Linked DNA regions of Homo sapiens: region 1 is linked to region 2. Evidence: fine-mapped expression QTL. A gene starts in region 2. The other region holds a variant in brackets. All regions are shown on one strand. Distances are from middle to middle. Region 1 has its middle 240 kb from the start of CDH5. Region 2 holds the start of LINC00922 (long intergenic non-protein coding RNA 922).

Evidence for each region. PIP is the estimated chance that this variant, and not a neighbour inherited with it, causes the effect.
Region 1: its variant is the best candidate, but not a certain one, in a credible set for the expression of LINC00922 in lung (TOPMed, PIP 0.62).

The regions. Positions count from the first base shown.
Region 1 is chr16:66,121,233-66,126,613 of GRCh38, reverse strand. No RefSeq gene overlaps it. Among named protein-coding and RNA genes, the nearest start is that of CDH5, 240 kb to the left of the region's middle. The variant A/G (reference allele first, on the strand shown) is at 2,454.
Region 2 is chr16:65,573,866-65,579,246 of GRCh38, reverse strand. LINC00922 (long intergenic non-protein coding RNA 922) reads left to right here and starts at 2,950. Exons shown (of 10, transcript NR_174971.1): 1 at 2,950-3,008.

The DNA.
Region 1 (5,381 bases), 550 kb before region 2:
TCTTCCCCAGCTTCCTAAGACCAAGCAGGAGCTGTCAACAGCACCCACAGAGAAAAATTGCAGCCACTTCTTGCAAAACTTAATACTGAAAGACATTAGCATTTTATATTTACTTTATTTATTTACTAAAACAAGTAATTGGTGACTTCTAATTCCAGGTGGCACCTGGCAAGCAATTCTTAATACCTTCCAAGGCCCTTCAGATATAATTTTTTTTTTTTTTTTTTTTTTGAGATGGAGTCTTGCTCCGTTGCCCAAGCTGGAGTGCAGTGGCAAGATCTTGGCTCACTGCAACCTCCGCCTCCTGGGTTCAAGCGATTCTCCTGCCTCAGCCTCCCAAGTAGCTGGGACTACAGGCAAGTGCCATCACGCCCGGCTAATTTTTGTATTTTAGTAGAGACAGGGTCTCACCATATTGGCCAGGCTGGTCTTGAACTCCTGCCCTAGTGATCTGCCTACTTTGGCCTCCCAAAGTGCTGGGATTACAGGTGTGGGCCACCGTTCCTGGCCCAGATATACTTTTAAAGTAACAGAAAGGAGCAGAACAGGATATCATTGCCGGAAAACAAGACTGGTAGCTCATGATCCAGGTATCTAGGGCAGTTTCTACACGAAGCAGAATGGAGATTGCTGTTAAATGCCAAAGCGTGTTCTGCCACTCCAGTCTGAATGAATGTATTAGCCAAAAGGGAAGAAGACAGGTCGAGGGGTTCTCCCTCTCTCCGGGCTTCTTGGGCCAGAGGGCTAGTGTCCTGTCTAACCTAAGAACTGAACATCCATCCCAATAGACAGTGGTCCTGCCTTTGAGGCCCTCAGAGCACATTTTATATCTTCCCTCTCCTAGCCACCATCTCAGGACATCCTCTGGCTGCTGTCTGGAGCCCGATGAAAGGACCATTCTGGCCAGAGTGGTTCATGAGCTCAGTGCAGTGGGCAGCAGAGGCACCAGTCAAGCCCTGGAGCAGTGGATTTTGGGAACTGTAGTTTCCAATGAGCGCCTTTGTTTCAAGGAAGCAGGCAGTCAAGGCATAAGATCTCTTTCCCAGCTCTTCCATTTCAGCATAGTTAGTGCGCTTGGTGTGGAATTAATTCTCATATGAACACACCAGCCAACATGTATGAGATTCTTGCTGTTTATTTGAGACCTCTTTCTATTCTGGATTCAGAATTAGAACATTTTGATTAGCACCACACTCTAACCAATTGAGCTAACCGGCCGCTGTGTGAATTAGAACATATTGAAAAACGGAACTCTTACCTTCAGGAAATTGAAATACAACATGACACTAGTAATTACAATGGTTTAGCACAGGAGTAAGACTCAACCGACAGGTGAATAGAATAGAATAGAATAGAATAGAATAGAATAGAATAGAATAGAATAGAATAGAATAGATAGTTCTGTGTGAACTAGAAGTTGGTATAGACTAAAACACCTTCAGAATGAGAACAATAAGGGCATATAGTTCAACAAATCATATCGTGAAAATTGATTATTTGGAAGAAAAATCAATCTAGATAGATCCTCACCTTTTAAAAAAATCCCCAAAATATTAAAAAATTTAACCTTCCCTCATTCAATATACTCTATACAATTAAAAGGCAAACAGCAAACTAGGTGAACATCATACGCATTTGGCAGAAAAAGGGTTAAAACCTTTGCTATACAAAAGGGCCTTCCACTCCAGGAGAAAAACTAGTAAAAGATGTCAACTACAGGTGAAGTCAAAAGGAACTATCTTTACAAGATAGCTTTACATTTTTCTTTTAGAAGAAAAATTCAAAGGCGTTCATTGTAATAACACTTACAAGAACCAAACATTACCCCAAATCCTTGACATGTATAATAATTAAATAGTGGTTAAATAAATTATCAAAAATTTGTGTGGTATAATATTGGGTAACTATTATAATTTTGCTTTAGAAAATACTTACTATCACAGGATCAAATATGAAATTTCGGCCAGGTGCGGTGGCTCACACCTGTAATCCCAACACTTTGGGAGACCAAGGTGGTTGGGTTAACTGAGGTCAGGAGTTTGAGACCAGCCTGGCCAACATGGGGAAACCCCATCTCTACTAAAAATACAAAAATTAGCTGGATGTGGTGGTGGGTGCCTGTAATCCCAGCTACTTGGGAGGCTGAGGCAGGAGAATTGCTTGAACCCAGGAGGCAGAGGTTGCAGTGAGCCGAGATTGTGGCACTGCACTACAGCCTGGGCGACAAGAGTGAGACTTTGTCTCAAAAAAAAAAAAAAAAAAAAAAAAAAATTCATTTTTAAACAGTGTGAAATGAAATATGCTATATAATAACCCATACAAGTGCCTGCATGTACAAGAATAAAAGAGACTCCTTGAACCCATTAACCAATTGTTCTCTCTGCATGATACAATTATATAGGATTCTTAGTTGCTTCTGTATTTTCTTTTTCCTTTTGCGTTTCTGTTTTCCA[A/G]ATTTCCACAAGTTTTTACAAGCAAGTTATATGAGTTATTTTAATAAACCAATAGCTGTTGAATTAATGTATAAAAAGCAAAAATCCACTATGGGAACAAGTAAAAATAGGTGGTGTATATTATTACTAGAATATTATAATATTGTTAAAAACACAATATCTCTTTAATTTATTAACACATTTTAGTTAAAACATGAAGAGGATTTCACTTTTGAAATTTGGCAGAAGGATTAGGAAATAACCTGGGAAAAAACAAATGTGTAAAATTAGGATAATTCTGTAAAAAATAATAATAAAGGAAGGGTGGTGGTTGGAGATGTTAAAATATATCATGAAGATACAATAATCAAAACGTTTGGTTTCAGGTAACAAATGAACAGAATGGAGCCCCTAAATATACTAAATATCCAAGGGAAATTTAGGACAGTTAGTTGACCCTTGAACAACAGGGATTTGAACTGCAGGAATTAACTTACTTGTGAGTTTTCTTCCGCCTCTGCCACCCCTGAGAGAACAAGACCAACCCCTCCCCTTCCTCCCTCTCAACCTCCTCAACTGAATACAATGAGGATGAAGATCTTTATGATGATCCACTTCCACTTAATGAATAGTAAATATATTTTCTTTTCCTTATGATTTTCTTGACATTTTCTTTTCTCTAGCTTACTTTATCGTAAGATACTGTATATAATGCATATGACATACAAAATATATGTTAATTGACTATGTTATCAGTAAGGCTTCCAGTCAACAGTAATAGTAGCTAAATTTTGGGGGAGTTGAAAGTTACATGTGGATTTTTGACAGCGTGGGAGGTTGGTATTCCCAACCGCCAAGTTGTTCAAGGGCCACCAAAGCATGTTAAAAGAAGCACGTCACATCAAATCTTGGGGAGGGAAAAATAGATTTATTTCATTTTACTTATTTATTTTGAGACAGAGTGTCTCTCTGTCACCCAGGCTGGAGTGCAGTGGTGCGATCTCAGCTCACTGCAATCTCCACCTCCTGGGTTCAGGGTTCAAGTGATTCTCCTGCCTCAGCCTCCGGAGTAACTGGGATGACAGGTGCCCACCTCCACACCCGGCTAATTTTTGTATTTTTAGTAAAGACAGGGTTTCACCATGTGAAAAGGCCGAGGCCAGGCTGGTTGCGAACTCCTGACCTCAAGTGATCCGCCTGCCTCAGCCTCCCAAAGTGCTGGGATTATAGGCGTGAGCCACTATGCCCGGCCAGGATGAATTATTTAATACATGAGACAACTGACCAGCAGTTTTGAGTAAAGACAAATTATGAGGCTAGGTCTCTCTTTTTTTCTTTCACTAAACTGACTTCTAAATGGATCACAGTGTGGTGCCCTCCCTGGTTTAGAGAGCGGCAGTGGCTGCTCCTTGCAGTTAGAATGGTGCCATACATGTCCCCGGAAGTCCCTGCCCACCTCTGTGGGGTGATCCCTCCTCTCATGACTGAGGAACTCCTCTGAGGCTGCCCCAGTATCTCTGTGCCTGGGACTCACCAAGCTCCTTCCTGCTCAGCAACTTGGCACCTGGTGTTCTCCTGCCTGGCACACTTGTCCCACACTGCCTCTTTCTCATCTTGCTTATGTGTCCCCTCCTGAGAGACCCCCCTGGGCACCCCCATCCTGCTTTATTTTCACATAATGACATTCATAATCCTGCTTTACTTCAAGTTTATTTTATTTAAATTTATTTTCACATTCACATAATCCTGCTTTATATTCTCCATAGCTCTTGTCATCTTTGAAAATCATTTATTTCTTTTCTCCATTTACCTTTTGTGATGGGCTCATGATGTCCACACTGGGATTAGAGTTTTTGGAGGGCCACTGTCTTGTTCACACAGTAATCCCAGTGCCTACAAACAGTGCCTGGAACAGAGAGGGCACTGAATGAAAAGGAATCTCAATGAATGACCTCGAACCTGAAAATGAAACAAGAGATCAATACCTTTCTAAACGTCCCAGAAAAATGCAAAGCTGTGAAGGAAGGGGATGGGAATTCTAACTAGACATGAATTCATGCATTAAATAAGAACTGGGGAGAGACTACATGTTTCAGGCACTGGTAGAGATGCTGGGCTGCAATGGTGAACAAGACAGACAGGGTCCTGTCCTCAGGGAGCTTGTATTCTGGAGTGGAAATGACAGAGGGAAGCAAACCATAAGTACCTGTACACTGTGGTAAGTGTAAGAAGACAGACATGGAATGGAGACAGAGGATAACCAAGGCAGGCCTCCTTTAAATGGGGGATACCAGAAGCCTCTCTGAGAAGGTGACTCTGAAACCATGGCTCGAAGAATGGAAGTGCCGTCTTCTGTCCGCTATCTGTCGACAAGAGGAAAAAACATTCTAGATGGAAGTTAAACAAGGTACCAAGAACTGACACGAGCAGGAGCTCAGGCATGTGTGGTGCCCAGTGAGTGAAGGGGAGGCATGAGCTGGAGAGACAGGCAGCTTCTGGACCAGGAAGGGCCTTTAAGGTCATGGTAAATTTGCAGAATTTATTCTAAGAATGATGGAAAACAGTAGGAAGGTTTTACGCAAGGGAGCAACATGATCTGGCTTTCGTTTTTAAAAGATTACAGTTGTGGTAAGGGTGAAAATGAAAGGATCTGTTAGAAGGTTATTTTATACATTAAAAAAATCCATGGCAAAAAATATGATAAAGAAATAAATTAATAATAAACCGAGGGGTGGGGGGGGGACAAAAGTGTGTACCATTTAACCAAAGGCTGCTTTCCTGAATGTATAAGAGGGTTATACAAAGTGACGTGGGAGAAAAAGTAGAAAAAATGGGCCAAGGCTATAAACAAGCATTTAATAAGGGAGCTTCTACTTCATCTCCCTCTCTCTCCTTCTCTCTCTCTCTCTCTCTCTCACACATACACACACAGACACACACACCTTCCTC
Region 2 (5,381 bases):
AGACATCTTGCTATAACGAGAGAAACAGTCGAGCACACAGAAGTGCCTCCCCAGCCCCGACATCCTGCTACTGGGAAAACTCAAAACATTCTGGGAACCTGACATCCTTTAACATTTCCCAGGCTGGCAGCTCCAGGGGGTCTGGCCTGTGGATATGGGAGGACATTAAGTGCATGGTTCAGGCAGAAAGCACACAAATGTCCAGTTCTGACCCTAAAGTGGGTTTCCAAATGCTGTGCTGATCTGGAGCCCTCGTGCCCAATGCTAGGGACCAGCATGTGCCACAGATCTCTCTGCTGCCTGCTCCCAGCTTGTGGCTTCTGTTGTCCTTGCCGGCTGGCCACAGGCTTGGCCACAGTTGGCTGGCTGTGACCAGACAGAAGAACAGAATGATAGATGTCACCGGAAGAGCAGGTTTTCCATCTTTAGAAAATGAGGCAGGGGGGCACAGTGACCAGGCCTGGGCAATATAAAGCAGATCGAAGATCAAGCCCAGACTCAGGAATAGACAGTTGTGTATTTGAATCCCAGCTTTGCCCCTTGCTAGCTGTGTGGCTTTGGGAAACATCACCTGCCTTTTTTGAGCCTGTTGTTACTTCCTCTGTGCACTGGGGAAAATATATCTTACATGGTTATTGTGAGAATCCAAACACACAAAGAACTGAGTAATAAAGTACTTAGCTCTGGGCTTGGCACATAGCCGCCATGACATAAGTGGTGATCTTTGATTTAGTAAGTTTAATTTTCAGTCATAAACCTGAGTTTGAGACCAGCTTTGGTCATTTAAGAGATATGCTGCTTTGGGCTACCCATCCAGTCTTTCAAATATCATTTTCCTTACTTATAAGACAAAGTAACACCCAACTCACGGAAGTGTTACACTTCCAAGAAGCCTTCTCTGATCCCCTGTCATGTGGAGTGTGGCATTTCAGGCTTCATGTGCTCTTGATAAAACACAGATCCTACTTCTATAGCTGTGGCAGGGCCTGGGCTACTGCATTTTGAATAAGCATCCGGGTGATGCTGATGCTTCAGGTCCGTGGACCATGCTTTGAGTAGCAAGGATGTAGAATTTGTTATTCCTTTTTTTTGTGTATCTCCATTATCATAATGGTAGTCATAAGCATGTTTGGAGATGTGTTTGCGTGTGTGTGTGTGTGTGTCGGGGGGTGTTTTCTCATGTCTCCCTTGTGACTGGGCACACCTATAGGACAGGGACAATGTCTCCTCTCTCTCTCTCCATTCTTCACAAATGAGTCTTCCATTGACCAGAGCTCAAGACAACTTTCACAGGCAGGAGGGTAGCAGCTGCTTCCTCTGTCCACCTTCTGATGCTTTGAATCAAGTCGGCCACTGTGATCTAGGATGGGGAAGCCTAGCTACGTTTACTGAGTAACTCTGTTGTTCCATCTTAGGGACCCTCCACTGCCATTTATTCTCAGAATCCAGTGTCCCTAGGGCCACTTTGCTCATGAACAGAGCTTTCTCTTCACCTCCACCCCCTGCTATGTTGGCTTCTAGAATTCGGTCCTGGGCTTTGAGCCCAGGGTCCAGTGTCCCTTCAGTCTGATGCCTGCTAGTTTCTACTTATGGACCTATAGGCTGACGCCCTGGATGGAGAGTCATTGACCACTCACCTGAAGCCTCAGGCTTGGCACTCTTTGTCCCCATTCCTGGATCTGTGACCTCAGTGCTGGAAATCTGAGTTAGCTCTCAGTGCCCTGGGGAAGCTGGGCCTGACCCCTGAACTGAACCAACAGAGGGTGTTCACTGCTTTCCCGCTCACCAAACCCCACTCCCTCTGCTCAGCTCATATCACATTTGGTCTGGTTGGAGCCCCCTCCAAAATGACCTCATGCTTCTCAGTGTGCAGAGTCATGAACCAGGGAATCACCAAATTGTTGACGAAATGGTTGAAATATGGGAAGAAGTAATGCTTTTCAGGTAAGAGAGAAAGAATAAAGAACACAATCTCCTCTTCAGGCTTATCAAGGTGCTCTGAGTATCTAGGGGTAGACATGAGTGTATGAATCAAAAGTCAGAGGAAGCTTTTTTTTTGAGACAGAGTCTTGCTCTGTCACCCAGACCTTAGTGCAGTGGTGCTATCTCGGCTCACTGCAAACTCAGCCTCCCAGGTTCAAGCAATTCTCCTGCCTCAGCCTCCTGAGTAGCTGGGATTACAGGCACCTGACACCACGCCCAGCTAATTTTTGTATTTTTGGTAGAGACGGGGTTTCACCATATTGGCCAGGCTGGTCTGGAACTCCTGACCTCAGGTGATCCGCCCGCCTGGGCCCCGCAAAGTGCTGGGATTACAGGCGTGAGCCACGGCGCCCAGCCAGAGGAAGCTTTTAAATCCTGTGCATTGTCTAAGGCTCCTTCTAGCACCAACAGCGCCCCCTCATGCACAAACACATGCACATGCACACATTCACACTCACCTCCCTCCAGACCCCTGCCACAACGTTGGGCTCAGCCTGTTGTATAGACGCCACTCATGTCAGTTTCATTTAGTTCTGTCTCACTCTGGGTTTCTCTTTCTCTTTTCATCCCTCATTGCCCATCTCTCTCTCTTCCCTTCCATTATCCTCTCCCTCTGTACCTCTCTCCCTCTGTTTCTCTGTTCCCTACCATTCTGGGCCTCTGTCTTGTTCCTTTATCCCTTCCTCACTCTCTCACTCCTGGTGCTGTATTTGTTTCTCCCCTACACTTGTCTCTCAGCTCCATCTGCTTTCTCTGGTTCTTTCTCCCTTGGACCTTGGTATGGTTTGGCTCTGTGTCTCCACCCAAAACTCATCTCAAGTTGTAATCCTCACGTGTCGAGGGAGGCACCTGGTGGGAGGTGATTTTAATATGGAAGTGGTTTCCGCCACGCTGTTCTCGTGATAGTGAATGAGTTCTCACGAGAACTGATGGTTTAAAAATGTGGCACTTCCCCTTCGATCCCTTGCTCGCTGCTGCTGCCACGTAAGAAGTGTGTTGCTTCCCCTTCGTCTTCCACCATGAATGTAAGTTTCCTGAGGCTTTCCCAGCCATGCGGAACAGTGAGTCAGTTAAACCTCCTTTCTTTATAAATTACCCAGTCTCAGGTGGTATCTTTATAGCAGTGTGAAAACAGATTAATACAGGCTGTTTCTCATCTGATTCCATCTCCTAGCGTCTGTGAAGTTCTCTATCTTTCTGTCTCTGTCAGGTCATGAGCATAATTTCCATCTTCACACATACCCCAAAAAAACCAGAGAAGGAGAGCAGGGAATGGGCTGGCTCTTCTCTTCTTCCAAAGCCTGAAAATCTGGCTTGAAGCGCTGGAGCTGGCCAAGCTTTGTGCTGACCAGTAGGCTGCCTTGCTTCTTGGCAGGAGAGTTGCTGGGAGGCCCCACCCAGCGCATGAGGATTAGACAACATCCATGAGGGATGCTGACTGCTAAGACGGACATACACTATTCTCAGATATGAGTTTTCAAACCTCTTGCAAACACATCCTTCCACCCCTCCTAGTGTCCCTCTCTGAGAAAGAAAAATTATTTTTCTCTGTGGCTTCACCTTCATTCTCTGCACTGCAGGGCTCTCTGGAGGGTTGGGTTCACTTCTGTTTTCTTCCCTCTTTCCAGATAACTTACAATAGACATGAATTGTCTTTGTAACAAGAATAAAAAATCATGAAATAAATTAAATGAACGTGTTGGGCTAGGCCATCTTTAGGACCCACCTTTTTGGCGCCCATGTGCTATGATAGCTCCTGACTTTGCCAACACAGAGACAAAAAAGAAACAGCATGCATGGGAAAATTTAGGTTTCTACAGGAAGGAAAGCAATTTTTTTTTTTTTAGATGGAGTCTCACTCTGTCGCCCAGGCTGGAGTGCAGTGGCGCGGTCTCGGCTCACTGCAGGCTCCGCCCCCGGGTTCACGCCATTCTCCTGCCTCAGCCTCCCGACTAACTGGGACTACAGGCGCCCGCCACCTTGCCCAGCTAATTTTTTGTATTTTTAGTAGAGACGGGGTTTCACCTTGTTAGCCAGGATGGTCTGGATCTCCTGACCTCGTGATCCGCCTGCCTCGGCCTCCCAAAGTGCTGGGATTATAGGCGTGAGCCACCGTGCCTGGCCAGGATAGCAATTCTATACAGAAAAGGCCTCTGCTGCTTTGAGGGTCTTTGGGCTTAGAAAGAAGAATCTAAGGTTTATGATCAATATTTTTGAAATATTTTAAAATGAGCACAGCCAATTAGCAGGTGATTGTCACCTGCCCAAGCAATCATTTGGCTGCTCTAAGCTTCTGTCCCAAGGAGCCAAAAAACTGGGACATCAGGGATGACAGAGCATTTACGTGGTCTAGCTGTGCCCAGAAAAATCACCTAAGTCCTGTGGATTTTGCAGGTGACATCAAGAATACCAAAGATCCTCTGTATACAAGAATCTTTACTTTTATTTCCTGAGTCATTTTAGGAAGACTGGGGCTATGTCTATGATATTTGCTGACATGACACTCTCTCTTATATCCTGTTCATAGCATCACAAAAACAAATGCTCAGTCTAATTCTATGTGTGTGCCTTGGCTGTATATTACATTATCCCGCAATTAGCACAATGATGGGTGATCAGGGCGAGCAGAATGATATTGCTGTGAGTGACCTATTATTATCCGCCGATTACACTTTACATGGAAATTAAATGAATTCTGTCAGAGCTCTGCAGCCAGGGAGAGAAGAAAATGCCTCATTGTTCGGCTCCCTGAGCTGGAGAGACTGCACGTGGCGATAAAGAGACCTGTGTTTGTGCAAAAACAAGGCGTGGGCTTCCAGTTTAAAAGATGCATTTGTTACACCAAAGCTCGAAATAGGAAATGCGTGTGGGCAGAAACAACGGAGATGAAAGGGGAGAAAACTAATTATTACTACCACCATTTGCGTATTGGGGTATTTATATAATGTGTTAAATTTCTTCTGTTGGGAAAATGTTTGTCATATCGGTGAGAATGAAACTTTACCCTTAGAGGGGGTATTCTTAGGCTTGAACACTTTTAGCTCAGTGAAATTTTTTTTTCCTTGAAATTATCTCCTGCATTCTTTTCTCTGCTCATCTTTCAATGGGCATCATCTTTAAAACATCATCTTTTCCACCTCTCTGTCTCTTTCATGATCTTGCATGTGCCTTTATTGTCTCAATAAGTGTCCCTTTAGATTTCTTTCTCAGGCATATTGCAGGTATCAATACTAAATAAAAAAGAGAGGCAAAATTCTACTGCCTTAGAGGCAGAGTGATTTGGGGAAAGGACATTACAACTGATAAATTTATAAAGAATCAGGAACTTAGAGTTCTTATCTTGGACATAGCTTCAACTAAATGCTCTGAAATGTGAAGACAATGGGAGTGACCTTGCC